Regions from separate parts of the Homo sapiens genome. Here regions 1, 2, 3, 4 and 5 are each reported to be linked to region 6. The links are microRNA targets in miRTarBase. Many come from high-throughput screens and were not tested one by one. Region 6 holds a microRNA gene; each other region holds the end of a gene's coding sequence.

Region 1 (5,436 bases), not on the chromosome of region 6:
TGGCCAAATTAGAATCTTTTAAAATCACAAAAGAATTCCAACAATGTAGAAAAATACCAAAATGAAAGTTAAACTTATGCCAAATCCTGCCACTCAGAGATTAGAATGAGTACACCACTGAACTCACTGGGGGCCTGGGTATGTGTCCATCATGCCTACTGGCTTTTATTAATTTTTTATTATTTTTTGGAGATGGAATCTTGCCATTGTGTCCAGGCTGGCCTCAAACACCTGGGCTCAAGCGATCCGCCCGCCTTGGCATCTCAAAGTGCTGGGATCATAGGGGTGAGCCATAATGCCTGACCTTTAGTGGCTTTTATTTATTTATTTATTTATTATTTTTTGTGAGACGGAGTCTCATTGTGATGCCCAGGCTGGAGTGCAATGGTGCAACCTCGGCTTACCTCTGCTTCCCGGGTGCAAGTGATTCTACTTCCTCAGCCTCCTGAGTAGCTAGGATTACAGGCACGTGCTACCACGGCCAATTTTTGTATTTTTAGTAGAGATGGGGTTTCATCATATTGGCCAGGCTGGTCTCGAACTCCTGACCTCAAGCGATCTGCCCGCCTCGGCCTCCCAAAGTGCTGGGATCACAGGTGTGAGCCATGGCGCCCAGCCCTTAGTGGCTTTTAAACAGTCGCTGCTGTGCCACCCCTTCCCCCCACCCCACAAGCCGTCACTGTGAAGGTCAGCATGTGCCCAGATTTTTGCTTTGAGAATATAAAAAAAACTTTTATTTTCTGTTCCAGAACTTTCCATGACTGGATCACAGGGAAAAACCGACCGAGCTCAGGAAGCCTAATCCAGGTGGTAACCACAGAAGGAAGGACGGAACTCACCCCAGCATATTTTTAGGCCTCATCTCAGTGCCTATGAGGGGCCTGCCAGAAAAGTCACTAACCTGTCTCAGTGTGGCCTTGTCCAGCCTTGTGTTTTCTGTAACCCCTGTTTGTGGTACGAGATAATGAGTCCTATTTTTCTCTCACATAATATGCATTTGCTCTCCTAGGACAGTGTAATACATTTATGTGAAGTAAAGACATGCGAGACTGGTGGCCTGCAAATAGCATCCGTTGATCTGTGTTAACTGCATAGGGAGGGCTCTGCATAGCACCTGCTATAGCGGTGTCATGTTGGATCGCTTTTGTGACTGTTCATCTGTCCTTGACAGTGGCTGTCATCTTGACTACTTTGTTGATTTGTTGGTATTGGGGACATTTTAAAGGCTGAGTTATTTTTGAATGTCATGTTTATGTCATAGACGTAGTTTTCGCATCCTTGAATTAAACTGCCTTAACTCCTTTTGTGGTATAAGCAAAACTACATGGACTCTGTCCTGGTATCCTTTTCCTGTGTGGTTGCCCCGTGTCCTCTGGCCTAGGGTTAAGTGTGCAAGATAACTACTCGTGAGTATTCAGAATGTTGTTCCTAATAAATGCACTTGTTGTCTGTCTTCTTTAATCAAATCACATCTTATATACAGCAGTCAGAGATGAGTATACTAGAATCATGGATTGCTGGAGGTCTTTTAATCTGATGTTCTCAGAAGGGGGTGGATTTAAATCCTGAAATAAATATTTCAACACAAGAACACAGGCCTGATTCTGCCTTGGACATGTCAAAATCTGGGGGTGATGGGATGGCCCTGTGCATTTAGAAGCAGCTCTCCACATATGGCCAATGTAGGCTGTCCTGGTTGAGAACTAGTAGTGGTTTAATCCAACCCGATCATTTTACAGATGAGGAAACTGAGGCCCAGAGAGACATTACCTTGTTGCCAGTAACTGGCAGAGCTAAGCCCAGATCTCTAGTCACCAGACAGTTGCTGTTTTTAAAGGCCTTTACCACGTATTTTCTTTCTTTTTTTAGTGAGGTGAAATTCACATAATTTTTTTTTTTTTTTTTTGAGACAGAGTCTTACCCTGTCGCCCAGGCTGGAGTGCAGTGGCGCCATCTCGGTTCACTGCAAGCTCCGCCTCCTGGGTTCACACCATTCTCCTGCCTCAGCCTCCCGAGTAGCTGGGACTACAGGCGCCCACCACCACACCCGGCTAAGTTTTTTTGTATTTTTAGTAGAGACGGGGTTTCACCGTGTTAGCCAGGATGGTCTTGATCTCCTGACCTTGTGATCTGCCCACCTCGGCCTCCCAAAGTGCTGGGATTACAGGTGTGAACCACTGCACCCGGCCAAAATTAGCCATTTTAAGGCTAATTTTAAGTATTAAAAGTTAAGTAGGTGAGCAGTTCAGTGGCATTTAGCACATTTACAGTAGTGCATAATCACCACCTCTGTCTAGTTCCCAAACATTTCCATCACCCCAAAAGAAAAACCAGAGCTCTTTAAGCAGTTCCTCCCCATTCCTGCTCCCTAACCCCTGCAACCACCAATCTTCATTTTGTTTCTGTGAATTAATTCTGGGTATTACTATTTTTTTGAGACAGTCTTGCTCTTACCCAGGCTGAAGTACAGTGGCATGAACATGGCTCACTGCAGCCTCGATTTCCTGGGCTCAAGCAATCTTCCCACCTTGGCCTCTCGAGGAGCTGAGACTACAGGCACGTGCTGCCACACCCAGATATTTTTTAAAGTTTTTTGTAGAGACAGGTCTTGCTATGTTGCCCGGGCTGGTCTCAAACTCCTGGACTCAAGCAGTCCTCCTGCCTTGTCTTCCCAAAGTGCTGGTATTACAGGCGTGAGCCATTGCACCTGGCCTGTTCTGGGTATTTTGTATAAATGGAATCAGTATGTGACCTTTTGTATCTGGCTGCTTCTACCTAGCTTTATGTTTTCCATGTTCTTCCCCATTGCATCATGTATCAGTACTTTCTTTCTTTTTGTGGCATAATATTCCATTATATGTATCCACTGCAATTTTGTTTACTGATCTGTTGATAGACATTTGGGCTGTTTCCACCTTTTGGCTGTTGTGAGCATTGCCGCTGTGAACATTCATGTATAAGTGTTTGTGTATCTGTTTTCAATGATTTTGGATATATACCTAGGAGCAGGATTGTTCGACCATATGGTAATTTTTGTGTTTATCTTTTTTTTTTTTTTGAGATGGAGTCTTGCTCTGTTGCCCAGGCTGGAGTGCAGTGGTGCGATCTCAGCACACTGTAACCTCTACCTCCCAGGTTCATGTGATTCTCCTGCCTCAGCCTCCCGAGTAGCTAGGACTACAGGTGTCCACCACCACACCTGGCTATTTTTTTTTTTTTTTTTTGTATTTTTAGTAGAGATGGAAGAGACAGAGTTTCACCATGTTGGCCAGGCAGGTTTCAAACTCCAGACCTCAAGTGATCCACCTGCCTCGGCCTCCCAAAGTGCTTAGAATTACAGCTGTGAGCCACTGCGCCTGGCCTCTATGTTTAACTTTTGAGAAGTCTCTTGATTCTTGCCACTACGAGGTGATTTTATCCAACTATTACAGGAAAGAAAATGGGAGCTCAGAAGGTTGGACTGCTTGTTCAAAGTCACCTAGCTAGAGAGCTGCGCAGCTGGAACTAGTATACAAGTCTAGCTGTTGAAAGCACCCTGAGCACATTACCTCATGCTGTACCTTGCATGTCTTGTTGTTTTCAATTTTCAGATGAAGAAACAGTTCCACACACTAAGAGACTTAACGAGGGTACAGTTAGTTTCAGGAGAGCTGGTAGTTTTCATTCCGTTTAGAACCGGACCTGGTAACTGTTGATTATCCTAATAAATGCACTTCATTTATCGTGTTGCCTTTTTATTTTGAGACAGAGTCTCGCTCTGTCACCCAGGCTGGAGTGCGGTGGCATGACGTCGGCTCACTGCAACCTCCGCCTGCCTGGTTCAAGCGATTCTTCTGCCTCAGCCTCCCGAGTAGCTGGGACTACAGGCGTGCACCACTACACCCAGCTAATTTTTATATTTTTAGTAGAGACGGGGTTTCACCACTTTGGCCAGGATGGTCTCAATCTCTTGACCTCGTGATCCGCCTGCCTCGGCCTCCCAAAGTGCTGGGATTCACAGGCGTGAGTCACCGTGCCTGGCCTGTCTCTTTAATCAAATCACATCTCATATCCAGCAGTCATAGATGAGTATGCTAGAATCATGGACTGCTTGGAAGTCTTTTAATCTGGTGTTTACCTACTCATCCGTTGGTGGAAATTTGGGCTGCTTATTAATTATTAATTATTTTTAATTATTGAATACCAGATCTGGTTTCTAAATGGAATGAAGACTACCAGCTCTCCTCAAACTAATTGATTATTGAGGTGTGTTTCTTTTCCTTCCCTGGTGATGTGCAAAGAGAATGAAAAGGGAAAAGGGGCCAGGAAGGAGATGTTTTTTCTCCTTCATTCATTCAACAGCTAATCTTGAGTACCAACTGTGTACAAGGCACTAACCTAGATGCCTGGGACACATAAAGAACAAGTAGACAAAGACTCCTACCCTTAATCATTGAGTTTTATTCTAGATGGGGGAGAGGGTGACAGATAATAAACAATAGAATTCATAATATGAATTCATTGGAGAGTACGAGAAAGGTGAACTGTGGGGGGAAGAGAGCAAGGTAAGGGGGTGAAGGAGTGTTGGGGAGATTGGGATTGCAATTTCAGAAATGGTAGTGTTATGAACTGAATGTGGGTGTCTCCCCCAAATTTGTATGTTCAAGACCTCACTCTAATGTGGCTGTATTTGGAGATGGGGCCTCTAAGGAAGTAACTAAGATGAAATGGGTTCGTGAGGATGGGCACTGATTCAACAGGATTAGTGTTCTTATGAGGACAGACACCAGAGTTCTCCCTCTCACTTTCTTCCCACACGCATGCACTGAGGAAAGTCTGTGTGAGGACACAGCAAGGAGGCTGCCGTCCACAAGCTGAGAAGAGAGCCCTCACAAGAGATGGAATTGACTGGAGCCTCAGTCTTGGACTTTCAGCCTCCAGAACAGAGAAAATAAATGTGTGATGTTAAGCCACCCACTCTGTGGTGTTTTGTTATGGCAGCCCACACTAATACAGGCAGTGATGGAATATCTCGTGAGGAAGTGACGTTTGAACACATCTGAAAGAAAGTGTAGAAGGCAGCCAAGGGCATCTGAGGTAAGGACATTTTAAGACAGAGGAACCAGTCATTGCAAAGAGCCTGAGGCAGTAGTGTACCAGGTGGGGTGAGGAACACAGGGAGGCTGGGTTGGCTGGGGCAGAGAATGGAGCAAACAGAGGGGCAGTTTCAGGAGATAAGATCAGACAGATGATTGTGTAGGGTAGGGGTCCCCCAATTTTCTAGGCCCACAGTGCCCTTAGTGTCTCAGTAATTTTTTACAATGCCCCTACATCAAAGAAACTAACTAATGATTTGGATTTACAAGTGGTTGGGTTCTAACAATTTTATAGTAGTAATATGACTGATATTGCTCTATGACCTAGAACATGGAAAGTACCCTGTAGAGTCCCTGTGAA
Region 2 (5,436 bases), not on the chromosome of region 6:
ATTGTTGTTTCTATGGCCTTTGCTGGCTCACTGAGTCTCTCCCATATGTAGCTATAACTTGTAACAGTAATCAGGAAATTGCATTATTAGCACAAATATCAACCACTGAGCTTCAAAGAAGATGAATACTCTTCGTAGCCAAATTGTATTTTCAGAATGTTGTACTTAACATTGACCTTTAGGGGTAAGGAACATTTAACAATGTAAAAAAAACAACAAACCTATTATTATTGAACAAGAATATGGTAGCATAGCACAGCCCTTGTATAAATAACCACAAAATTTATGAGAATAAAAATCGGGTTTTCTGTCTCCATCCGATCAAACCACTACAGTTCAGGTATATATTCTGTTCTAAACTTAGATATTATAAAACAGAAAATTGGTCCCAGTGACTTGGCATTGCCAATTAGCATTTGATAACAATAAACCTCTTGCTAAACCACAGAAGTCAGCACACAAGCCAGTCGCCACTTCATCCACAGTGCAGTATTAACAATCATCCTAATTAGAACTTGAACAGATAGATTTCTTTAGTCTCCTATGTAATCTCTTAGAAAAAAGTTCAGAAAATTCAAAAATAACTTACAGATTTGTATTTATACTACTTTTTATACCTGCTGGGTTTGCTTTGTCTGAAATTTCAACCAACCCTACTTTAGGGTTAGAATTTTACATTTTCAAACTGAAGCACTGGATTGTGTGGCTGATCCTCCTCATAACCTGAACTATACTGGGTAATTTTTCCCAATAGGGGCTGGGGGAGAAGAGATACACTGAGGAAAATACTTTTGGTTCAGAGAATTTATAAAGTAGCTCTGGATATTACAAGATGGGAAAAATGTTATTAAAATTACAAACATGGGTTTTCTTAGTGTCTTTATAAATAAAAGGCATAGAATACAGAAAGCCAATTAATAATAACAATAACAACAATAATAAAATATTAAATATATAGTGAGCAAAGACTGAATGGCTCATTCTTGTGAAACACCATTTGACGCCATTGCCTCAATGGGTTTCCTGACTCTAACACTTGGCTGAGTGAAAGCTCCAGCAAACACACAGTAAGCTGCCTTTAGCCCACTACTGACATCAAGGAACTAACTGCCTGATGGAATGGCCACAGATGAACAGGTCATTTGTTTCAAAAGATACTTAAATACTCAATAAAGACATAACAAACCCCACCCCCCCTCACTGTTATCAGACGCCACGTTGTGGTAGAACATCAGACAAACTCACAAATTTACCACAAAAATGTGTGGCAAAAAAGAATAGTTTATATATATGTATATATATAAATTTCTATATTTATGCCAATGTACTCACTCAGTACAAATAGCAAAATAGTATACCATTTCCTAAATACAAAATATAGCTTTCCAAAAAAATGAAACACACATTAGATATAAACCATCCAAAACTTGAACGATTGAAAACTGTATTCAAAATTAAATGACCCAGAGTAGGTCTCTTTCTGAAAAGTTCCCTTCATATCGGCAAGAAGCCTGTACTACTGAAAACGTAATTCAATGCCTCTCAATCAGAGAGAGAAAGAAAGAAAGGGGTGGAGGTGGAGGGAAGAAAACATGAGAAAAAAGAGAAAAAGACAAAAGAGCACATTCAAAGAACAAAGGAAGATCATCACAAAACAAAAAGAAGGAAAAATCTGGCTGTGTAAACAAAACCAACACCACAATTCCGCACAGTTCAACTAAATGTACAGGATAGAAAAAAAAAAAAAAAAAGAACAGAAAAGTAGCCTTCAACAATTAACAGGTTATTTTTTGTACACTTAAAAAATAAATGAAACGGACAAGGATACCAAAACATTATCTCAACACATAGAAGCCACACACACGTTGGCCTTACACTGCATTGACAGCTTTCCACATGCCAAAAGGAAAATGAGACATAAGCATGTGTCCAGACACAGGTGGTAGTGAGAAGCAGGCATCCCACGGGTGGCAAGAACACCCAAAACTGTATAACTAATGCTACAACTGCCAAGTTCTGGAGTGTGTTATTTTGCTCTTTATAGATGTAACACAAGTTAATTCTTCATTTTAAGTCAATGATACAACCCTGTAAAGCCTAAGGCTTGTGGGAACCATCAGGTAAGTGACCACTTCAAACTGTAAAGCACTGAGGTGACAAGTGAATTTATACTCACTGCAGATCAGGGAGAAGTGATATTTCAAGAAATTTTAGTTTGCCTTTTTTTTTTAATTAAAATTTATACTGTTTCCTATTAGAGGGAAAAATTTGAAGACTTCAGAACAGCACCGTTCATGGGGAAAAATGTGTTGTTTCTCAGGAATCAACTCCTAATAATTCCTAAGACAGTACTCTCTGCCCTGTGCTGCAGGATTGCTAGGTCACCCTAGATTAAAGTGGCCAAAGATGCTACAGGGTCATGAAGCCAGTAGTATATTAATAGTTCTCTAAAGTAAAGTGAAAAAGAGGTGAAAAGTAATATAGATATATATAAAAAGGGAATACCAGCCTAAGACTGGGTTAAGAAGAAAACATTCAAATTTTTCTGTCAATTTAAACTACTGTAGGAGGATATCAGAACATAATTTATCATATATTATCCCCTTCATTTTTTACAGATAATTATTTTTCTATGCACAGTTATGGCTAAACCCCTTAGTAGAAACCCAGAGAACTAACAACTCTCTGAAAAAATAAAATCAAGAAGCATTCCAGCTGTTCCCAGTTTTATAAGTGTATCATCTGCCTTTGTGTTAAATCAAGAGTACTTTTATCTGCACATACAGTTTACTTGTTAGAATGTTACCCTTCAGTTTCTCCAATAAAACTGAAAAAAGATTCCTTCACTTTGGCCAACAGCTGTGCCTTTTATATTGAAAAAAATCACAGCCTTAGTTATTATTGAACTTTACTTTTTCAAAAGCCATTACTTGACTAAAACAATGCAGGAAAGAAAATAATGAAGAACAAAAGTAAACATGATATATTATTTTCTAATAGCAATAATAACTGAGTGGTCCAGCCTTGAATTTAAACTGTACGTTTAAGGAAATTGCGCCTAGGAAAATAATAACAATTAATTCTGCCAGCTGGAAACTCAAATAGATTCTCAGTCATCACTGTTATTAGGAATATAAAATATGAAGATGTTAACATTGGTGGTTAGTTACTGCAACAAGCAGCATAGGTGTGCTCTTTTGCAGTCAGAGTAAAATCTATCAGTTTACTCAAACACAGTTTTTTATATTTTGTTTTGTTTTTAAAGTAATAATTCTCATGGAACCACAAGATCTCAGGACATCTTGGAATCAGGATTTTCTTCGTGGAATTTCTAAAAAAGAGAAAAAGTTTAATTTAACTTACTAGGGAGGGAAGCATTTATAAAGTTTCTGACACCCTGAATGATCCTAAAGTATATTATGGTACTGTAAGTAAAACTTTATCATATTTGATCTTCCACAGACTTTTCTGACTCAATATTTATTTCTGGAGGAAGGGATAAGTGAGGCATGGTTATATCCAATATATAGTACAAAGGAAACACATTTTGCATACTCATCAGATGTTTTGTTATTCCAAGGCAAAGAAGCTCAGAGGCAGAAGGAATGTCCAATATAGGTTGAGTATCCCTTATCTAAAATGTTTGGGATCAGAAGTGTTTCTGATTTCTTTTTTGGATTTTGGAATATGCACATATACACAATGAGATATCTTGGGGATAAGACACAAGTCCAAACATGAAATTCACTTCTGTTTCACATACACCTAAAAAAATCTATCACAGCTGAAGGGAGCTGGAAGGATCTTTTTTACCCTTGGGGACACCAAATAAACTGCATGTTGTGAGCCTGACTTTTGACTATGACCCTATCATATGAGGTTAGGTGTGGAATTTTCCACTTGAGATGTCATGTCAGCACTCAAAAAGATTCGGATTTCAGAGCATTTTGGATTTTGGATTTTTGGACTAGGGATGTTTGGTCTGTATTTTTTTTTTTTTTTGTATTTTTTAGTAGAGACGGGGTTTCACCATGTTAGCCAGGATGGTCTCGATCGCCTGACCTCGTGATCCGCCCACCTTGGTCTCTCAAAGTGCTGGGATTACAGGCATGAGCCACCACGCCCGGCCTGGTCTGTATTAACTATATGACCATAAGCTATCATTCAGAATAATTTTATTCAGAGTAAAAAAGTATCATCTTGTGAGAAAGCCACATTTTAAAAGATTAGAACTACTATTACTTAACCTAAATCTGTTAAGAAGAATAAAATCTGATGCTTTTCAATAAGAAGCCAAAATGCAATACTTACATATCCAGTTAAAAGGAGCCAGTCAAGTTGTTCCCTTGGTTTTGCAATGAAACAAGCAAATCAATCTTTTCGATGTTCTGGTTGGTGTTTATAGAGGATGCCAGTGGAGAATTCTCTGGCATTTGCTGAGAAAGAAGTGTTGTCACAGGTGGCTGGCCCTCGTTTTGTGGTTGGCCTGGCTGACTTATGGCCATCAACTGATCAGGCAATGTAGCTGGTCCAGAGGTTAAAAGCTGACTACAGTCTGCAGAGACATTGAAAACAGAAGCTTAAAAGCTGACTACAGTCTGCAGAAACATTAAAAATAGAAGCTATCTGATTAGTAAAGATTCATGAAAAGATATTTATTAGTTGTTGGGGAAAATTCATTACTGCATTCTCCTTGTATATTACTAAAAGTTAGGCACCTGATAGTCCAAGAAAAAGGTTTTCACAGACTGGCACTGGAATTCATCTTAGGTTTCCTTTAAGCAGTCTAAAAATACAACTTTGCTTAAATATCAAAAGTCCTATATAAATTCCTTGGTATATAAACATTAAAGATGAGTTTCTACCTCCTTAGAAACTACTTACTTCAACTGGGTAAGGTATTATCTGTCATTCTGACTTCATTTTCCTTTTAAGTTTATAGCTTAAAATGGCAAACACACATTTTTATACATTGCCATATTTAATCCTCCCCAAATCCATGTAAAGTATGTAATATTATCACCATTTTAAATGAGAGAATTGAGACCCATAAAAGCCAAATAACTTGTACAAGATCTTATAGTCTATAGGTGATAGAGTTCTAACTACAATCTGTACTCTTAAAACAACTATACAGGACAGGTGTGGTGGCTCACGCCTGTAATCCCAGCACTTTGGGAGGCCGAGGCCAGCGGATCACTTGAGGTCAAAAATTCAACACCAGCCTGGCCAACATGGTGAAACCCCGCCTCTAACAAAAATACAAAAATTAGCTGGGCGTGGTTGTGCACACCTGTAATCCCAGCTGCTTGGGAGGCTGAGGCAGGAGAATCACCTGAACCTGGGAGGCAGAGGGTGCAGGTGCAGTGAGCTGAGATCGCACCACTGCACTCTGCTTCCTTCTAATAATAATAATGACCAATTAAGTAATGAAAA
Region 3 (5,436 bases), not on the chromosome of region 6:
GCCTCGCTCTGTCGCCCAGGCTGGACTGCAGTGCTGCGATCTCAGCTCACTGCAAGCTCCGCCTCCCAGGTTCATGCCGTTCTCCTGCCTCAGCCTTCTGAGTAGCTGGGACTACAGGCACCTGCCGCCACGCCTGGCTAATGTTTTGTATTTTTAGTAGAGATAGGGTTTCACATAGCCAGGATGGTCTGGATCTCCTGACCTTGTGATCCACCCGCCTCAGCCTACCCGTAATGATGTGTTTTTAATGGTTTGGTTTTGTTTTTTGGGTTTTTTTTTTTTTGAGACAGAGTCTCGCTGTGTTGCCCAGGCTGGAGTGCAGTGGCACAATCTTGGCTCACTGCAACCTCCGCCTTCCAGGTTCAAGCAATTCTCCTGCCTTAGCCTCCCAAGTAGCTGGGATTACAGGTGCCCGCCACCATACCCGGCTAATTTTTTGTATTTTTAGTAGAGATGGGGTTGGCCGGCTGGTTTCAAACTCCTACCTCAGGTGATCCACCTGCCTTGGCCTCCCAAAGTGTTGGGATTACAGGCGTGAGCCACTGCGCCTGGCCTTTAATGTATTTTGAAAGAAAGCGCCTTATAAATTTATGCCAGAGTGACAATGAAACTGTAGCCATTTGAATGTTACACAAACCCAGGACTGGCTACATGAGTTTGAGGAGGAGGTGTTTCCCTGCCTCTCTCTTTGCGCTGTGGGTGACCACTGCCTGTCTGCTGTCATTACATGAACCCTTAAGCACTCTGGGTGTTTCATATAGAAATAATCCTACTTTTCAATAGTATTGAAAGGTGTCATTTATCTTTTTGGACTGTTGATCAACTTCTTTTGATACTTGTTTAATAAATTACATCCAACTTGTTCCTTCCTTCTTAAATCATATTTATATATGCATCTCTTTCAAAAGCTTCAGCGCCTGCTCCTGGTCATCACTAACCAGATTTACTTGGAGTACATGTGAAAGAAAACGTCAGTCTGCCTGTAAATTTCAGCAAGCCGTGTTAGATGGGGAGCGTGGAACGTCACTGTACACTTGTATAAGTACCGTTTACTTCATGGCATGAATAAATGGATCTGTGAGATGCACTGCTACCTGGTACTGCTTTCAGTGTGTTCCCCCTCAGCCCCTCCGGCGTGTCAGGCATACTCTGAGTAGATAATTTGTCATGCAGCGCATGCAATCAGAATCTCACTGAGCCACCCATCATTGTGAAATAATTACCTCAGTTGTACAGGACTTGGTGATCAGGATCCAGGCACTCACTTGTATTCTACTGCTCAATAAACGTTTATTAAACTTGATCCTGCTACTTATCTTGTGGCCTCTCTGAGCCTCTTGTTTTCTTATTTGGAAAATGGAGATGTTAATTATGTAAGCTCTAACTTACAGTTATTATGAGGATAAATAAGAGAAAGATTTAAACTATGAAGTCCTTTAGAAATAAGGTAGCATTCAATGACATAGTAGTTGAAATTATAAGCTGTAGGAGAATATTGCATCAGGAAATAATCACAAGGCAAAGTACATAATAAGCCAATTGAAAAAAAAAGCCAATTGATTCTAGTTAGGCTAGTATCAAATGCATACTGCATAATATTTGTCTCCATCTAAGACAATTACCAAGATCCCTAAATTGTGCGCTAAAAAGATTCTAAAGCAGCAAGCATGGGGGTAAAAGTGAGTCCAGTTTGAAATCTGGCACTCTGCAGGTGGGTAGGAGAGCAGCTGTGGAATGGGGGTGGTGGCTGCACCCTGGGTGTCCTGTCCTCTTGAGACCATCCTGTTTATCATCTGTGTCTCTGGCATTTAGCCTCATTAGGTCTGGCCCATGGTAGATGTCCAACAGATGACGGAGATCTCTCTGAGCCTCAGTTTCTTTTGTAAGACAACCAAAACCTGTCATGGCTTCCTCCAACAGCCTCAGGGTTGTTGGGCTGTGTGAGAAGTTTGCAGGAAAGCATTACACAGCATCAGTGGAAGTCAGCGTCAGGTCGTGTGAGATTCAGAGGGTTTGGTTCTGACACAGGAATCACATTTTTCCTGCGAACGTATTTTGTTCTCTTCTGCCTCCAGAAGATGAATCTGCTGTGGTACAGAAAGGCCCTACCTTTAAAATTATCCATCTGCCCAGCTGCTCAGGCTTGAGAGTGCATTAGAATCACCTGGAAGGCCCTAACAGCCAGCTGGGCCCCAGTGTTCTGATTGCACTGCTGTAGGAAGGAGCCCAAGAACTTGTATGTCTAACAAGCATCCAGGACATGCGGATGCCAGGACCCCAGCTGGAAAATTTCTAATGATACAAAGAACCCAGGCCTGCCCTATCACAGCCTTCACATCCACTGCACTGGCACCAGGCTCCAGCCCTGTGTCACGCATCTTAGTGCATTTAGTCCACCTTAGAACCTAGTGAGGCATCAGTACAGGCCCTGACTTTCAGAACAGGAAACAGGCTGAGAGGCAGTAACACGCTACAGATGTCGCAGTTAGCAAGCACTGGGGCTAGGACTTGAACCCCCAGAACCTGAACTCTCCTCCAAAGGGAGGTGAGGACGGATGGGAGCTGCCCTCCCCACCCCCACCCCCCACCTCACCCCCGGAAGCAGAGATTGATGTGTCTGACCCAGGAGGGCTTCCCCACAAAGGCTGGGCCATTCCTCTTCTCCCTTTACTACTTAAGGCTTCCTTTGGCAAATTACCAGGGTAGGTTGGGCCCAGTGGCTCACGCCTGCACTTTGGGAGGCTGAGGCGGGCAGATCGCTTGAACCCAGGAGTTTGAGATCAGCCTGGGCAACATGGCGAAACCCCATCTCTACAAAAAATAACAAAAATTATCCAGGCGTAGCGGTGTGCGCCTGTAATCCCAGCTACTGGGGAGGCTGATGCTTGAGGATTGTTTGAGCTTAGGTCGAGACTGCAGTGAGCCAAGATCACACCACTGCATTCCAGCATGGGCGACAGAACGAGACCCTGTCTCAAAAAGAAAACAAAAAATAATTGCATTTGCTATCCCAGAACTCACTCACACACTGAATCCCTCGGGGTTTTGGAAACAACCAGGTCTTGTCCCGAAGGCAGCCTGTAGGTGGAGCTAGAGAATGTCACCTGGGCTTCCCCGTGGGCGAGGAGCACGGGGCCAGGAGGATCTGTTGAAAGGAGCATTTGGAGGGCGGTGCCAATGGGCAAGAGGTATGCACAGAGAGCCACGGGAGTGGGCAGGGCCAGTTCAGGAAGGAATCCCAGAGGCTTTTTGTCCCAAAGCCTACGCATTCGTGCTGCTCTGACTTAATGCAGTGCTCAGCTGTGCTGCAGAGTAACGACAAAGGCTGGGAGGAGAGGAAGTGGCTCACAGGCAGCTGAAGGTGTCATTTTAAACAACGTGCTCTAAGTTAGCCTCAGATGAGACTCTAGGAGAAGGCATGGTGTTTCTTCTTGATTGTCACTGTATCCCAGGGGTACACGCACCCCAACCAGAGGCTTTGGAGGGTGTGCTTCCTGCCACCCTCAAGGGAGTTGTCTCTGTCAAGCTAACGGATCCCGAGTTCCGGGGTGCCAGGCCGTAGTCTGCTTCATTTTTATCTGCACAATAACCCGTGAGCCCATACCATCACCCCATTTCACAGCTGAAGAAATGGATGCCCAGACAGGATAAGTAGTTTGTACTAGAGGATAACTACCTGGCTAACAAACCAACTAGTTAACTGGTTGGCCAGGATTCAAAATCTGACCCGCTTCAGAATCGGGACTCGGACCACAGCGTGGCTTCAGAGAGCTCCTTCACCTGTGCTGGGCGTGCGTTGCCGTCGGGGATGCGGCGGTGGTTAGCACACGTTCTCTTCACTCCCTGAACACAGAGGCTAGAGAACAGACCTGCAGACACACAGTGCCAGTGCTTGGCAGACACAATCCTGGACGTCTGTGCTGTTAGGAACCGTCTGACGGGCGCCAGCATCAGGCCTCGCTGCACACGGGCCTTGGAGCAAGCACAGCACCTGCTCAACAGCCAGCTCTGAGCACGGACCCTGCTTCCACCCTTCAGACAAACCAGCCACCAAGAGGCATTTCTGGTACGTACAGAGAAATGTGAACGTGGACTGGGTGTTAAGTGATGTTGAAGTGTTAATCTTATTAGGTGATCACCACCACAATAGTGGTATTGTAGTTATTAAAGAAAATTTCTTTGGTTTTAGAAATGGAGGTGCAGGCCGGGCACAGTGGATCATCTGAGGTCAGGGGTTCAAGACCAGCCTGGCCAACATGGTGAAACCGTGTCTCTACTAAAAATACAAAAACTAGCCAGGCGTGGTGGCACGCACCTGTAATCACAGCTACTTGGGAGGCTGAGGCATAAGAATTGCTTGAACCCAGGAGGCGGAGGTTGCAGTGAGCCGAGATCGTGCCATTGCACTCCAGCCTGGGCGACAGAGACTCTGTCTCAAAAAGAAAAAAGAAAGAAATGCAGGCGCAATTATGTAGGTGTGAAATGATACCTAGGATGTACTTTAAGATACACCAGCAAATACTAGCCAGTCAAAACAGATTGGGGGGACGGAGTCTCTAGATGGGATGAGATCGGTAATTGTGTAGAGGGTAGGGGGTGGACGTCTAGAAGTGCATTACAGAATTCACTCTGCATACATTTTAACTTTTCCCAATAAAAAGTTTTTAAAAATACTTTAAAAAAAAAGCCATGTGATGGAAGCCTGTGTTAGTATTATAATACCTGTTTGAGAAGCTGGCACTGTGCAGCCCCAGGAAATGAAGGTAACGACTCTGCGGGCGGCTCTGTCAGACAGTGACTGTCTCATCACCACTCTTCACAACAACCGCTCCCCTGATGTCTCTTACTACAAAGGAAGTCTCAGCTTTTTCACTTGTTTTCCCTCTTAAAGAATGATGTAATATAGGCCAGAGTTAATGAACACCTAAGTCTAGAGGGAAAATGTCAGAAAACTCTCATTTAGTTAGGAATAAAAACTTATTTTTTAAACCAGGCACAGTGGCTTATGCCTGTAATTCCAGCACTTTGGGAGGCCTAGGCCGGAGGATTGCTTGAGGCCAGGAGTTTGAGACCAGCCTGGGCAACATGGCAGAACCCTGTCTCTACAAGTAAATTTTAAAATTAGCTGGCTGTGACAGCTCACGCCTGTAATCCAAGCTACTCAGGAGGCTGAGGTGGGAGGATCGTTTGAGCCTGGGTAACCAAGGCTGCAGTGAGCTAGGGTTGTGCATTCCAGGTGGCAGAGTGAGACCTTGCCCCTCCCCCCCAAAAAAACCTTACTTTTTAAACTAAATTTACAACTCCAGACTGAATTTTTTATGGTTATAAAAACATTTTTAAAACTACAACTCAGGACTGAAATGTTCATGGTTATAAATGTTTCCATGCTGTCTTCCTGATCTGCTTTTTTTTCTTTTTTTTCTTTTTTTTTTTTTT
Region 4 (5,409 bases), not on the chromosome of region 6:
TTTCCTTTTCTTGGCATATCTCTCCCTTAAAATATGAAAATATTCCATCCATTGTTTTAATACCCAGATCATATGCCACCTTCATGAAACCTTTCCTAATGATACTGATCTCCTGATTCTTTGTTTTTTACACAGTGATTTTGCATTATAGTCATTTTGTGTGACTTATTCTGAGTTGCATTCTTGAGGACAAAGAGTAGTATTTATGTATATATATGTATCTTGTAGGTATACATTGGAATGATTGAAGCTATTGTACTGCTTTAGTTGTGGATCCATCTAGGCAAGAGTGACTTTATTTTCTTTCATTTTCTGTTAACTGACCAAATACATATTAGCTTTGATATCTAGAAGTATTAACATTTCCACTTTTCCTATTCCTCAGATGAACAGTGCTTTGAGACAAATGTCATATGGTGGAAAATTTGGTTCTTCACCTCTGGATCAATCAGGATTTTCACCATCAGTTCAATCACACAGTCATAGTTTCAATCAGTCTTCAAGCTCCCAGTGGCGCCAAGGTACACCATCATCACAGCGTAAAGTCAGAATGAATTCTTATCCCTACCTAGCAGATAGACATTATAGCCGGGAACAGCGTTACACTGATCATGGGTCTGACCATCATTACAGAGGAAAGAGAGATGATTTCTTCTATGAAGACAGGAATCATGATGACTGGAGCCATGACTATGATAACAGAAGAGACAGTAGTAGAGATGGAAAATGGCGCTCATCTCGACACTAACACATGTTAAAAGGACATTGTTTTTATAGGGTCATTTTAGGCCCTTTGACTAAGTTGATATGGAAATATTTTGTTGAAAAACTGTACAGAGCAGCTTTACAAGTTGTCACATTTCTTTATAAATTTTTTTAAAGCTACAGTTTAATACAAAATGAATTGCGGTTTTATTACATTAATAACCTTTCACCTCAGGGTTTTATGAAGAGGAAAGGGTTTTATGCAAAAGAAAGTGCTACAATTCCTAATCATTTTAGACACTTTAGGAGGGGGTGAAGTTGTATGATAAAGCAGATATTTTAATTATTTGTTATCTTTTTGTATTGCAAGAAATTTCTTGCTAGTGAATCAAGAAAACATCCAGGTTGACAGTCTAAAATGGCTACTGGTATTTTAGTTAATTCAAAAATGAAACTTTTCAGTGATTCACTTTACTAACATTCTATTTGAGAAGGCTTATTGGTAAAGTTTGGGGATAAAGGCATTGCTTAACTTCTTATATAATTTAGGTATAAATTCTGTGACATGCTCTTGAGCTTTACCCTAGTTGAACATACATGTGTAGATTTACACATACTGTTTCATTCTAAAATTTAGAAATTGTTCATTAAATCCCATTTGAGGTATAAGTCACTCAGGAAGTTAAAATATCTCTACACGTATATTTTTACATTAAAAATACAGTGTTAGCATAAATCCCCTTTTCAGGAAGAACAAAAATGTCAGTGCATAGTTAGATAAAATGGTAAAATGTTTTACTGAAAGCATACTTTTTTGGAAAATAGATTCATGAAGCCTTTAAGTGCTGCTTCTGTCAGTCAAACGTTAAAAACTTTAACATTTTCAAAGTGCCCAGACTGTGTACAAAGACACATGTAATGGAGATTGTACAGGTTGTTTTTTTGTTTGAACCTTTGAAAGAGTTTAATCTTAACGTTTTCTAATTTTAAAATTTTAAAATCTTGTTTAACAAAAGCTTGTATTAAGATACTGTTTTCATTTCATTACAGAATTGTTTATAAAAGTTCATTTGTTGAAAAATAAGGATCCTTTTTAATACCACAGCATTTGTACTGTTCCTTTTTAATATACTGAAAATATAAAAGGAAGGGTGTGTGTTATTTTTTTTTTTTTATGTCACTGACTTCAGAGACATTGTACACAAAGAATTAACATACTTTTATTCACTGATTGCCTGCTGTTTAGAATATCAGTTCTTTAATTTTGAGCATCCTGAAATACATCTTTTGTACATATAGAGCATGATGTTTCACAATCAGATTTTCAGTGACCCCTCGATTATAGCTTGGAGTACTTTAGTTACCCTCAGTGGTCTCTAGGAGTTAAAGTACACTTAGATTTCCTGTTTATAAATGAATTCAGTTTTTCTGTTTCTAAGTAAATGTAGCTATTCAACTACTCACTATAGAATTAAGATAAACAATTTGTTTGCTTAAGCATTTTCACAGAATTTGTTTCCAATGAGATTATTATTTTTGGGTATCTTATCCATATGAAAACTTAGTAGGTTTGTAGATGTTAACGAAGATTAATACTGCATGTTTGTTTTTGTTTTTTTTTTGAGACAGAGTCTTGCTACGACACCCAGGCTAGAGTGCAATGGCGGGATCTCAGGTCACTGCAACCTCCATATCCCGGGTTCAAGTGATTCTCCTGCCTTAGCCTCCCGAGTAGCTGGGATTACAGGCACCCACCACCACGCCTGGCTAGTTTTTGTATTTTTAGTAGAGATGGGGTTTCACCACATTGGCCAGGCTGGTCTCAAACTCCTGACCTCAAGTGATCCACCTACCTTGGCCTACCGAGGTGCTGGAATTACAGGTGTGAGCCACCGCGCCTGGCCTAATACTGCTTTATTACAACGTTATCTGTGGGTCGGATCCTTTTATATTGGTTAACAGATGACCCTGACTCAGAATAATCTTTTTCAATGGCTTTTTGAGGGAAGCTTGTGAAGTTCTGGTGAATCTTCTTTTTCACTTCACTTTCAGTGAGCTGAAAGTAACCAAACTAAATACATGTATTGTGTAAAGGGACAGGACAAGACAGCCTTAAAAAATTGAATATAGTTGGTGAGACAACTCAGAAGTACAGGTTTGAGCATCCCTTATTCAAAATGCTTGAGAAGTGTTTTGGGTTCTGGAATATTTGCATTAATGCTTGCCAGTTGAGCATCCCAGGTCCGGAAATCCACAGTGCTCCAATGAGCCTTTCCCCTGAGTGTCACATCTGTATTGGCACTCAAAAAGTTTCATATTTTGGAGCATTTCAGATTTCAGATTTGGGATGCTTCATCTATATTGACAGCTGCAAGAACAGAAAGGAAGAAGAGATTATTTTTGTGGGAGAACAGTTTCTCCCATAGTGTTTCCTGTGGAATGCTAGTGTCTCATAAAGTCTTCTAAAAAAAAGAAAAAAAAAATCAAATGTTTGGAAGCCATTTTGTGTTACTGTGTGACTTTCTTTTACTCAAAAACAGCACCATAAAATTTCTGACAAGTACTATAGGTAAAGAAATCCCTTTATACTTAACCTAGTATTTTCTACCTTTCCCCATCTAAAATAAAATTTTTATACCACTTTCTAATTATGTTGTGTGTGCCCACTTTCCCCATACCTACTGCTACCATCTTAGAGTAGGCAATTTTCTCAAGAGGATTATTCCAAGAACACCCTAATGTTTTCCTGCTTCCAGTCTTCTTTCCTCAAATTTATTCCACACTCTTAAGAATTGAAGATGTAAATCTGTCACTCGCCTGAATAAAGCTTCAGTGGCCTCTGACTTAAGTACAAAATTCTCAACTTAATATGACCCCTATTTGGCATGTGCTACTTCAGTCTCCTCTGATGACTTCCCCACTTTAGTTCTCATAGTAACTGCCCTTCACTGCTCAATCTATGCATTACTTCCTCTAGAAAGCCTTTCCAGAGCTCTGAAATCCAGATTCAGTGCCAAGTTATGTATTCCCCAAATATCTTTTTCTTTTATCATAGCCTTTAGACTGTATTATAATTTTCTTTTTACTTGTCTGTCTCTGTAGACAGCTCTATGAAGACAGACCTTATCTTATTCATCACTGCATTCCCAGGATCCAGTGCCTGGCATATATTTAACAGTGAAACTTTTTGATGAAAGGAAGAACGTCTGTTAATTGAATAAGGAAAAGGAGGATTCAACACATAAAACTTTGAATAGGCTCTCTAAACCTAAAACATTGCATCCTGAGAATTACATGTCACAGTACATGTATTCTAGAATTCTATTTGTTCATTTTGTCAAACTTCAAAAAGTTTTGGATCTGTATTCATGAATAATGTGTGACTTTGTTTTTATTTTATTTTAATTTATTTATGGCAGAGCCTCACTCTGTCACCCAGGCTGGAGTAGAGTGGCACAATCTCAGCTCACTGCTACCTCCGCCTCCTGGGTTCCAGTGATTCTCTCACCTCAGCCTCCCGAGTAGCTGGAATTACAGGCACCCACCACCACGCCTGGCTAATTTTTGTATTTGTAATAGAGACGGGTTTTCCCCATGTTGGCCATGCTGGTCTTGAACTCCCAACCTCAGGTGATCTGCCTGACTCGGCCTCCCAAAGTGCTGGGATTACAGGCATGAGTCACTGTACCAGCCTGATTTTGTTTTTTAATTGTATTATCTTAGTTTGGTTTAGGAGTATGGTTCTGCTAGCCTTATAAAATAAATTGGCAAGCTTATCATCTTCTATGCCCCCCCCCAAATTTGAATAATAAAGGAATTAGCCGTTTCTGCAAGATGTGTTGAACTCATTTATACAACTATCTGGGTTTGCTTTGGAAATAGCTCTTTGATTGCTTTATCAATTTCCTTTAGAGTTATCTTTTCAGGTTTGCTACTTTCTCAGGAAACAATTTGGATAATTTATACTTTTCAAGAAAATCAACCATTCCCTTTTTCTGAATATATTGCTATAGAGTTGTACATAGTATTTCTTATAATTTTTGTAAAACTCCTAATATTGTCAATAGTGCAGTTTTAGTTTCTGACGATATATTTTACCTTCCCTCTCATCCTCAGATGAGACTGGCTGTGCTGTTTTGGCATACATCTTACATTTATATATGTTATAAGCCCCACACTACCTTGTTTTTGTTAGGCAGATTCTTAAATAATAGAAAATTATATATAATACTTAAGAAAAAATAGGAAAAAAAATCTTACTATTTACCCCCATAGTTACCATTTCTGGAGCTCCTCATTCCTTTGTGTTAGATCCATTTATCTATCTGGTATTATTATTCTGCTTGAAAGACTTCCTGTGGTATTTCCCATAGGGCAGCTTTGCAGGTGATGAAATCTTTTAGCTTTTGTATATCTAAAAAAGTCTCTTTCAGCATTTTGAAATATATTTTGAAGAATATTTTGAAATATATATTTAAATAAATTCTAGGTATAGAATTCTAAATTGATGAGGTTCTTTTCTTTCAATTCATAAAAATAGTTGGTCCATTGTTCTCTTGATTATTTCCCATAAGGAAATCTTACACATAATGTGTCATTTTTCTCTAGCTGGTTTTGAGCAATTGATTACTATGTGCCTTGACATAGTTTTCTTCATGTTTCTTGTGCTTGGGGTGCATTGAGCTGCATGAATCTGGAGTTTTC
Region 5 (5,436 bases), not on the chromosome of region 6:
ATGATAAAAGGGATATCACCACTGATCCCACAGAAATACAAACTACCTTCAGAGAATACTATAAACACCTCTATGCAAATAAACTAGAAAATCTAGAAGAAATGGATAAATTCCTGGACACATACACCCCCACAAGACTAAACCAGGAAGAAGTCAAATCCCTGAATAGACCAATAACAAGTTCTGAAATTGAGGCAGTAATTAATAGCCTACTAACCAAAAAAAGGCCAGGACCAGACAGATTCACAGCCAAATTCTACCAGAGGTATAAAGAGGAACTGGTACCATTCCTTCTGAAACTATTCCAAACAACAGAAAAAGAGGGACTCTTCTCTAACTGATTTTATGAGGCCAGCATCATCCTGATACCAAAACCTGGCAGAGACACAACAAAAAAAAGAAAATTTCAGGCCAATATCCCTGATGAACAACGATGCAAAAATCCTCAATAAAATACTGGCAAACCAAATCCAGCAGCACATCAAAAAGCTTATCTACCACGATCAAGTCAGCTCATCACTGGGATGCAAGGCTGGTTCAACATACGAAAATCAATAAACGTAATCCATCACATAAACAGAACCAATGACAAAAACCACATGATTATCTCAATAGATGCAGAAAAAGCCTTCAATAAAATTCAACACCCCTTCATGCTAAAAACTCTCAATAAACTAGGTATTGATGGAACATATCTCAAAATAATAAGAGCTATTTATGACAAACCCACAGCCAATATCATACTGAATGGGCAAATGCTGGAAGCACTCCCTTTGAAAACCAGCACAAGACAAGGATGCCCTCTCTCACCACTCCTATTCAACATAGGGTTAGAAGTTCTGGCCAGGGCAATCAGGCAAGAGAAAGAAATAAAGGGTATTCAAATAGGAAGACAGGAAGTCAAATTGTCTCTGTTTGCAGATGACATGATTGTACATTTAGAAAACTCCATCGTCTCAGCCCAAAATTTCCTTAAGCCGATAAGCAACTTCAGCAAAGTCTCAGGATACAAAATCAATGTGCAAAAATCACAAGCATTCCTATAAACCAATAACAGACAGAGAACCAATTCATGAGTGAACTCCCATTCACAATTGCTATAAAGAGAATAAAATACCTAGGAATACAACTTACAAGGGATGTCAAAGACCTCTTCAAGGAGAACTACAAACTAGTGCTCAAGGAAATAAGAGAAGACACAAACAAATGGAAAAACATTCCTTGCTCATGGTTAGGAAGAATCAATATCGTGAAAATGGCCATATGGCCCAAAGTAATTTATAGATTCAACGCTATCCCCATCAAGCTACCATTGACTTTCTTCACATAATTAGAAATAACTACTTTAAATTTCATGTGGAACCAAAAAAGAGCCCGTATAGCCAAGACAATCCTAAGCAAAAAGAGCAAAGCTGGAGGCATCACACTTCCTGACTTCAAACTATAGTATAAGGCCACAGTAACCAAAACAGCATGGTACTGGTACCAAAACAGATATATAGACCAATAGAACAGAACAGAGGCCTCAGAAATAACACCACACATCTACAATATCTGATCTTTGACAAACCTGCAATGGGGAAAGGATTCCCTATTTAATATTTAATAAATGGTGTAGTGAAAACTGGCTAGCCATATACAGAAAACTGAAACTGGACCCCTTCCTTACACCTTATACAAAAATTAACTCAAGATGGATTAAAGATTTAAACATAAGACCTAAAACCATAAAAACCCTAGAAGAAAACCTAGGCAATACCATTCAGGACATAGGCATGGGCAAGGACTTCATGACTAAAACACCAAAAGCAATGGCAACAAAAGCCAAAATTGACAAATGGGATCTGATTAAACTAAAGAGCTTCTGCACAGCAAAAGAAACTACCATCAGAGTGAACAGGCAACCTACAGAATGGAAGAAAATTTTTGCAATCTATCCATCTTACAAAGAGCTAATATCCAGAATTTAAAGGAACTTAAACAAATTTACAAAAAAAAAAAATCAAACAACCCCATCAAAAAGTGGGCGAAGGATATGAACACACACTTCTCAAAAAAAATAAGATATTTATGCTTCCATTTCTTTAGAGGTGAGTGACCAAGGTTTGGAAAAGAGGAGATGAGTGTCTGCTGGAGCTTAGCCATCTGTGGCACCAGCGCTGGTCCACATAAGCAGCTGGCCAGCGGTGCAGTGTGAGGTAGAGGGGTGTCTGTGAGTGGTGCTGGAAAGAGGGAAGACAAGGGGTCCGGGTTCCAGGGTCCAGGTAAGGTGACCTTGGATAAGCGATTCAGACCAGCCTGTCTCCTACGGGGCCTCTGCCATCCTGCTGCCCCTAAAGGCAGCTGCCGTCTCCCCTCTGGGCACAAAAGGGGTTCTCAGAACAGCCAGAGCCCCAGGACTACAAGGCCTCCAGCCAGACACAGAGCTTGACCTGGCCTTGTGTCCATTAGGTCAAAGTGGGACAAGACAGAGGCTGCAGCAGCGGCTACAGTGAATATCCCCAGGACAGAGCTTCAGAAGCAGCTGCAGCCTCCACTGGTTTTGCATGCCTAGTACCATGTGTGCACAGGAGGCAACAGAGACAGTAAAGCAGAGGGGCTGAGTGGCTCAAGAGATCCTATCTGGGCTCAAGTCATGGCTTTGTCACTTACCAGCTGCCTGCCTGGGCAAGTTACTTAACTGCCCTGTGCCTCAGTTTCCCCACTAATAAAATGAAGATAAGAATTACCCTAGTCGTGAGGATTAAAGGAGTTAATATCGTTCCTGGCAAAGTATGCTCTATGGTGTGTTTGTTATTGTTGTGTTATTGCATACTTTAAAATACCCTCCTCCTGCCCCTTCTTACACATGCGTTTGGCACCCATGGCAGACCAAGCATCTGACCACTTAACTACTGGGTGTGTAGATGGTTCCCACCGTTAGAATCCTTCAGGTTTGGGGCTCTTGCTGCTTTATTTCTTCTTCTTTTTTTTTTTTTTTTTTTTTTTTTTTTTTGAGATGGAGTCTCACTCTGTTGCCCAGGCTGGAGTACAGTGGTGTGATCTCGGCTCACCACAACCTCCGCCTCCCGGGTTCAAGCGATTCTCCTGCCTCAGCCTCCTGAGTAGCTGGAACTACAGGCGCGCACCACCATGCCCGGCTAATTTTTGTATTTTTAGTAGAGATGGGGTTTCACTATGTTGGTCAGGCTGGTCTCGAACACCTGACCTCGTGATGGCCCACCTCAGCCTCCCAAAGTGTTGGGGTTACAGGCGTGAGCCACCATGCCCGGCCTCTTGCTACTTTATTTCTATTGCCCTGGCTACTAAGAGCCTCACAAAAAATCTAGATCCCATGTCTTCTGGCCCGAAGGTTTGAGTGGACTGACGCACGCAAGTCCCGGCATCTCCAGCAGGGGTCGACCGACACCACGCTCTGCATGCGTTGCGCGGCAGCCATTAGGCACACTGAGGGCTGCAGGGAGCGCGGTAGGTGGACCTGTGGGCAACTCCGCTTCCCTGGTCCCCCACCCCATCCACCCCATTTCCTGGAGGTGGAGCCTCATGCTGTACCTGGCCCAGGCTGTTTCCCTCGGTTCTCGGTAAAATAGGCGTGGTCACCTCTGGCCCTGAGGCTTTCCCCCCAACCCCCCACCTGTATCCCAAGCTATGCCAAATCTTCACCCCATGCACCCCCTTCATCCTCGCATCCACAAGGGGTTTCCAAATCCAGGTTGCAGCCTTCCTTACCCCCGCCCCAACAAAACAGCACACAGGAAAGGCAAAAAAAAAAAAAAAAAAAAAACATGTTTTTATTGTTTGATTAACAAACTGGTTGGGGGAAGGGCAAGAATAAGACATGCGGGGAAATACCAGCTTTGATTAGTCAGAAACTCCTGTTATCTGTACAAAAAAATGAATGTTACAAAAATCACGTAAAAAAACTAGGCTCAAGGAAGCAGCCGCCCTTGCAAGAGGGCTCAAGGCACCTGGGAGGCTGAGAAGAGGCCAACCTGGCCATGGGCGTGGCTGCATGGACAGCTCTTCCCTCCTGCCCTTCCCCAGATGCCCTTCCCTCCTGCCCCGAGGGGCACACTCCCTCTCCCCAATTACAGGTGCTACAAAACTGCCTTGAATACCACCGCCAAGGCACTGCCAGAGATGAAATGGGCCCTGAGCAGAGCCTCAGGCTCTCCCTCCCCCGTAGCCCAGGCCTGGAGAAAGGAGGGCCTTGTTCCCCAGGCCCCAGGTGGGCACAGATTCCAGAGCTGCCTCGGGGAAAGCCTCTTAGGGGAGGCCCAGGCTCTGCTCCCTGGGGAGGCAGAGGCCGTGGGACCTACACACAGGCACACACAGCCCTGGCTTTGGTCAGTACTGAGTGTGGGCAGAGGGGCCGCAGCCCTGTCCAGCCCCACGATGTTGACTGAGAGGTGCTATCCCAGACGGTCCTTGTTGGAGCTGCCATGGCAGGCTGGGCCCTAATTGGGGTAGCACAAGCAGCATCCCGTGCCTGCCGCCTCCACGCTGGGCTTGGCACCGGGCCCCAGGAGCCCATCAGTGACAGAGTGCTCCATGATGATGTCCTCCACCCGGGTGATGTACAGCAGCGTCAGCAGCACCCCCAGGAACTGAGAAGAAGGGGCAGGGCTGGTGAGGGCCTGCTGGGAATCAGGGCAGCCCTCCCTGCAGCTCCCGGCTCCCAGAAACCCAAGCAGCCAGTCCCAAGCCCTCATGGTCCTGTGTGACCTGGGCAACACCCACAGCAGAGACTTCTCCCAGCACCCACACTGCCCAAGAAGCTCCCACCTGGGCCCCCTCTCCCCTTCCCAGGAAATCCCAGAGCGCCTCGCTGTGCCCCATCAGCAAGGGCCCCTCCCTTCTGGGATTCCTGCCTCCACCCCAGCTCTGCTGCACACTATCTAGGGGATCTTGGCAAGTCACTGAAGCTTGCTGCTCCTCAGTTTCCTCCTCTGTGAAATAGGCATTATAATAGTGCCTCCCTCACAAAAAGAAGTGAAGCAGCAGTGCCTGCGCAGCACTTGGAAGAGCTTCGCCACGACTGCTATTGCCATTTGCCCCTCCTTCCAGCCATGCAGCCCTCCCCAGGCAAGTCCTGGACTTCTATGAAAAAAGCCTCTTCGCTCTTCCCCTCTGCACCTTCTCTGCCCTTCTGCAATCACCAAGTCACACTTTCTCTGAACCCACGGCCTGCCCACCTGGGGAAGCAGGATGCCCAGGAGGATGCCCGCCATGATGGTGTAGTTGTCCATGAACCAGATGATCACGGCGTTGGTGCAGCCCCGCACGTAGATGACATCCTGCACACTGAAACGCTGCATGGGAAGGAGCTGGGTCAGCCCAGCAGAGGACCTCGGCTGGCAGGAGCCACAGCCCCGACTCTGCCATGTACACAAGGTCCAGGCTAGTCCCTCAACCGCTGTGATCCTCAGTTTCCCA
Region 6 (5,436 bases):
CAAAAACTGAAAAGCTTAGAAAATTCCCAAAATATAGACATTCTAAGACCATATTATTGGGGCAAAATGCAATAAAATTAGAAATTTGTAAGACAATTTGAAATAACAACAAAAGCAACAAACATCTAGCACTTCAGATTTTAAAAATTAAAATTATTATACAAAAAAGAACAACCCAAACTATAATTTTCAACCAATATTAATATTTGTGTTGAACATTTGATTTTGCTATCATCACAGTACTGTACACTTATAAACATATCTCATTTAATCTTACAAAGCACTATAATGTAAATATACTCACTCTAAATTACAAATACAGAAGTGTAGTGAGTTAAAGTCCCTCTCACAACATGTGTGAAACTGTCAGAATTCAAACCTAAGCTCCTTGATTCTAAACCCGTGCTCTTTTTCACCTGGTCTTAGCCAAAAGACTGAAAAGCAGCAAGCCTGTGCTCCCTTAATGTTAACCAGGCTATATTTTAAACATTTAGATGAGACTAAAGCAGTTGTCAGAAACAAATTCATAGCTATAAATGTTCCCAATATTAAAGAAGAAGTATCAAAATTTTATAATGCAGAAGAAACTAAGCTTTAAACTCAAGAAATTATTTTAAAAAGGGAAACAAAAACCTCTACAGAATTAAAAAGAAGTAACTACAAAAGTAAGATAAGTAATAAATTATAAAAATCAAAAGCCACAAAACTCTGGCAAAAAAGCATGAGAAAAACATTTAATATTGGGAAAAAGAAAGGAAAGATAAATTTGGAGAATAATTATTTTAACAGAATCATATGCACAATTATTTGATAAATACTACAAGCATTTTTCTTAAATAGATAATGGTAGCCATCTATAATTTAACAAAATTAATGAGTAGAGATATAGAAAATGTGAATAGGCAAGTGACTTAGAAAAATGTTATAATAATTTTTAAAACTGTTGTAAAAAATGATTTGAGCTTTTTACCAGAAGTTTTCCAGGAAGGGCCATTCAAACATTTAGAGAATTGATCATCGTTCTATGTAAAATTTTCAACAGTATAAGGATGAAGGGGAAGCTACCAATTGGTTTTATATAATCAAGTGATTATGAAATAAATTTCAGCCAAAGATAACTCAAAAATTAAAAAAACAAACTTTTAACTCAGTTTCACTTGCAAATGTAGATGCAAAATGCTTTAGTAAAATGGTAGCAAATGGAATTCAATAGTACATTAAAAGAGTAACATATCATGACAATTAAAGCCATTGGATTTAGAAATGTATTAGTATCAGGAAAACAAATAACATGTCACTTCACATAGTCTGAATAAGAAAATATATATATATGATAATTCCAATACAAGAAAAATAAAACATTTGATAAAGGTCATCTCCTTAATATCATGTACAACACCTACTTTAAACCAAACCCCAAGGCCATATTACTGTTAAAACACTAGTAGAGTTATTAAAACATCACAAGAATGACTGTTTCAGCATTATTAATTAACATTATAAAACATTTAGCCAATTAAAGATATAAATAAAAATGAGAAATATTGTAAAACAGAAGGCGTATTATTTAAGAATAATATGCTGATACACCAACTTTAGAAATCCAATAAATTTAAATTTTAGAAAATTGCAGTCTTAAATGCTAGATTTGCCTGTTACTAAAATTCATTCTGTACATAATTAAAATTCACAAACAAATATTTTACTTATACTTCTATCATTTCTAATCAGCTTTTTAAAAGAGAAATCTTTTAATACTTATTTTCATCCTAGTAGTTTACATTGTGACACCAGCTCTAACAATATCCACAAAAATAACAAATACTTGGATGCTGAGGTGTGAATTTTGTTCCCATTTTTGAAAGCAGGAAGAGTAAGACTTCCTTTTGAAGGAGATTTGCACATACACTATAGAAGACACCCATTTAGTTCTTGGGAAGATGGAGTTGGAAGTGTCCGCTGCTTGTGAACAGCTCAACAGCATGGAGTCCTCCAGGTTGGTGCATCTCTAAACTTGACCCACCTGGAGATCCATGGTGTCGAACAATGAACTTTCCAAACCAGCAAGGCCTCCATAAAGTGAAGGGAGATCCTCTTCACCACCGTTGGTTGAAGAATAAAAAACCTACACCTACACTAGCCCAAATGAGTTTCTGTTGTTTGTCTTCTGTGTCAGAATTTCATTCATTCATTTCCCATCTCTGGCCTATTGTTTAAAGTTGCTGGCCATAATGTATACTTTCCAGACTCCAGGTTAATCCCAGGCTGAGAAGCTTTGTTTGTTTGATAATGAAAAACTGAACAAGGAAACAAGCAAAAACTTGCAAATAATGTGTACCTTATCATAAACATCCAAAGAGTACAAAATTCTGTGCTCTGCAGTTGCTGTATAACAAACATATTAAATTGTACTTGATTGAGCAAATATTTACATCTTACTGTGGAATTTCAAAGTTTAATGTCTACACGTCTTATTAAGGTTGTTATCTATTATTGTATGGTGGAGAAAGGATATCTAGCTGATAGTCATGTTTAAAAACTGACCTGGGTTTGGGACTGCAACCAAATTCTAAGGGCCTAGCTGTTTATGATTTGCCCATTCCATTCAGGGTCGTCCTAATCCCTTCTCAATCTAAGATGCTTCATTCTCACTATAGTTTGCTCGAGAAAGAAAGTGGCTGCTTATGGTATGAGTTCATAAGAGTCATCTAGGATTGTGTTTAATACCCTATCCCACCAGCTTCTAATTTTTACGTGCATTTAATTGGGGCTATATTTGTTAGTTTTCAATTAGAAAGAGACAGATAAAAAGTAAACTGCACACATTATCAGAGGATGCTATAGCTTACCTTCTCACTTATTATGAATTTGCCACCTAAATTCAAACTCTTCTGAAATTTATACCAATTATTAATTCTGAAAGCAATTCTGATTATCTTAATAACTAGCAACTGACTGCAAACATAGAAGGATAGCTAGGTGGATAGATGGATGGATGGATGGATGGATGGATGGATGGATGGATGGATAGATAGATCGATAGATAGATAGATGAGTTTAAAAGGAAGATCACAGAATCAATGTTAGTAGTTAACAATTATTTTTATATTTTGTTTTGAGAGTAGGCTTTGATGGAGCCTAATGAAAGCCATAGAAGAAGCTAAGGGGAGGCTGGACTGTTATAAACAACCCTTCACTTATCTAATACAATTTAACTAAGCTTATCATTTTTTTTTATAGAAAGAGAAATTGATCAGAATCTACTGACAGTTCTTCCTGTCTGGCTGTGTAATGGATTAGCATAGAGACGAGCAGCACACCTCTGTCAGAAAACCTAAATTTAAGTCACATCTCGGGGCTCTAACAATTTACCACCAACAGCGTCTTTGGAGGTCAGCCCCTGAGTCCATGATTCCCCTGTATTATTGGGAAAGAATTAAGAGGTTTTGTGAGTTATGCATGAGATGTGTGTGCAAGTTCTTTGTAAGCTGTAAATCTTACACATTTATGAAATTATCAATGTTGTTATTTTGTAAATGCAACTGATCAAGAGGCTAGGTTCTTACAACAAATGGATCAAAAAGCGTCTGTATGTTCTCAAAAAATAACAATGGAAATGGGGGAAAAAAATGACATCAGGGAATGGCCAAACTGGGTTGCTTAGGGTCCAAAGATCATTGCTATTCAAATCACTGCACTACAAGATCGGGTGAGATCTGCTAATCTGTTTGGGTCACTATAGGTCAGGGCACAGCACATTATAGATGCTAAATAAATGTGTTTTGTATGAATAAATACACATTTTTCTTTTCCTGTAGTCAATATTTAGTGTGTCTATTTTCAAATTTGCCTACGTGGTAAAGCCACAGTGACATTGAAAACTTGCCCTGCAAGTGCCTGTGAATCTGAACTGTCTCAATCTGTTTCTAGCTGGAATGCAGCTAGAACTGCATGCAACCCACTATACCTTTCTATTTTTCCAAGAACCAAAAACCGCAAGTCCACATATTTAATTTCACGTAATTCTCACATGCCTGGATCTTGGAAATGGAATTTTTCCTTTCCCAGGGCACTCGTTTCCACTTTGGGGGTGCCCACACTCCCCGGGCTGTACAGGACAATCTACTGGCTTGCAGGAAGAAAGTATTAGAAACTCCGTTCTCAATTACTGTTATATCATTCTCTAAAAGAGGTTTTTTGTGTATGTACTATGATATACATAATCATGGAAAAATTATTTCTATGTAATTTATAAATAAGAATATATCCATGCCTTGATTGGAGCTCAAAATTCTGTTATGAATAGAGGTGTGTAGCTCACATTCTTGGTACCCTACCCATATCATTCAGATCTTTCAGTGTTCCCCTGCTGACGTCTATATGCCACTGTCTGCTTCTCTGTGTCTGGGGGCTTTTTCAGAAACCTAGGAAGGCCACTCTGCTCACCCTGCACATACGGAAAACCAAAAATGCCTCGGGTGTTTACAGCCTCTAGGAGCAGGCTTTAAATAACAATTCTTTTTTTAAAAAAAAGATTGTTTAGCAGTTGGCAAGATAATTATGAGACGAGCAATTCTGTGCCATTTCTTAGAATGCCTCATGTGTGTAAGCTCCAGTCTCCTCTGAGATGCCCAGCTTAATAGAAACCTTTTTACTGGCAGCCTCTTCTTCCCTTTTCACATCCCCTCCTTCCTAGATGGCTCCTCGCACTTCACAAGTAGAAGTGAGCCTTGTTTCTGGGAGAACCAAACTGAAGTAAGCCTGTGATCAAATCCATCAGATGCTGCTGCTCCAAGCTAAGGCTCCATTCTGTTAGTTTTCAACGCAGCCTCCTGCTCAAAATTACTAACAGGGCAAAATCAGTCTGGTTTTACTTCTCCCTATGGCTAAGTCTAGTAATGTAGTATAATATTAAAAAAAATAGTTAACTTGGCTGCAAAACATTTAGGTTAGTCCTAGGAACTGTTTAAGGGTCTTTGTTTCCTTTCACTAGTATCTTCAGTGTCCACATTGGGCTGCTCTCTGACTCAGAGCCAAGGGTTGGGGAATGTATCACCTGCTGTTGGTGGTGATGATAGTATCAGAAATAAGCCTGTCTTTTGTTCTGACGGAATTTCATTTCTCCTTTTAATTCATGCAAACAAAACCATGGCTCACTAGGTATGTGAGTTTGTTTTTACTTATTTATACAGTCTTCAATGCCTCCCAGTAAATTAAAAAGAAAAATAATAGCAATGAGAAAAACTAAGAACTCTTGTTTAGAGAAGATGATTATTCTAGATAATTTTCAATATTGATTTTTCCCCAGGGATTTGCTAGAGGTATTTGCATGAAACAAGCTTTTTAAACTATGAAGTGTATTCATATCTATGGTTTATCACCTAGCCCATAACTCCTGTTTATATCTTTCCTCCCAAATATTAGCTCTGAAGAAGA

Evidence for each region. The annotated mature microRNA hsa-miR-490-3p reads CAACCUGGAGGACUCCAUGCUG and lies in region 6 at 1,979-2,000, opposite strand. An mRNA with a match to its seed (bases 2 to 7 or 8) in the 3' UTR can be bound and repressed. Matches are read on the target gene's strand: a 7mer-m8 pairs with bases 2 to 8, a 7mer-A1 pairs with bases 2 to 7 and ends in A, and an 8mer does both.
Region 1: miRTarBase lists QDPR as a target of hsa-miR-490-3p. The part of its 3' UTR that is shown has no 7-base or 8-base seed match.
Region 2: miRTarBase lists NFAT5 as a target of hsa-miR-490-3p. Seed matches in the 3' UTR shown: 7mer-A1 at 720-726.
Region 3: miRTarBase lists ATP5MJ as a target of hsa-miR-490-3p. The part of its 3' UTR that is shown has no 7-base or 8-base seed match.
Region 4: the mRNA of RBM7 is a reported target of hsa-miR-490-3p. Seed matches in the 3' UTR shown: 7mer-m8 at 1,106-1,112.
Region 5: the mRNA of TSPAN15 is a reported target of hsa-miR-490-3p. Seed matches in the 3' UTR shown: 7mer-m8 at 3,990-3,996.

What each region holds. Positions count from the first base shown.
Region 1 is chr4:17,482,550-17,487,985 of GRCh38, reverse strand. QDPR (quinoid dihydropteridine reductase) reads left to right here. Exons shown (of 7, transcript NM_000320.3): 7 at 750-1,591. The coding sequence ends at 855. Among named protein-coding and RNA genes, the nearest start is that of QDPR, 27 kb to the left of the region's middle.
Region 2 is chr16:69,694,255-69,699,690 of GRCh38, reverse strand. NFAT5 (nuclear factor of activated T cells 5) reads right to left here. Exons shown (of 15, transcript NM_138713.4): 14 at 4,312-4,555; 15 at 1-3,331. The coding sequence ends at 4,320. Among named protein-coding and RNA genes, the nearest start is that of SNORD13H, 12 kb to the left of the region's middle.
Region 3 is chr14:103,908,167-103,913,602 of GRCh38, reverse strand. ATP5MJ (ATP synthase membrane subunit j) reads left to right here. Exons shown (of 4, transcript NM_004894.3): 4 at 909-1,315. The coding sequence ends at 937. Among named protein-coding and RNA genes, the nearest start is that of ATP5MJ, 11 kb to the left of the region's middle. RefSeq lists an enhancer at 2,317-2,817.
Region 4 is chr11:114,407,060-114,412,468 of GRCh38, forward strand. It overlaps RBM7 (RNA binding motif protein 7), which reads left to right. Exons shown (of 5, transcript NM_001286045.2): 5 at 386-3,548. The coding sequence ends at 748. Among named protein-coding and RNA genes, the nearest start is that of RBM7, 9.1 kb to the left of the region's middle.
Region 5 is chr10:69,506,000-69,511,435 of GRCh38, reverse strand. TSPAN15 (tetraspanin 15) reads right to left here. Exons shown (of 8, transcript NM_012339.5): 7 at 5,196-5,312; 8 at 3,770-4,607. The coding sequence ends at 4,458. Among named protein-coding and RNA genes, the nearest start is that of TSPAN15, 57 kb to the right of the region's middle.
Region 6 is chr7:136,899,806-136,905,241 of GRCh38, reverse strand. MIR490 (microRNA 490) reads right to left here and starts at 2,075; the gene lies at 1,948-2,075. All of the region lies in intron 2 of CHRM2 (cholinergic receptor muscarinic 2), which reads right to left. LOC349160 (a long non-coding RNA gene) reads left to right here. Exons shown (of 4, transcript NR_046103.1): 3 at 3,241-3,392; 4 at 5,425-5,436.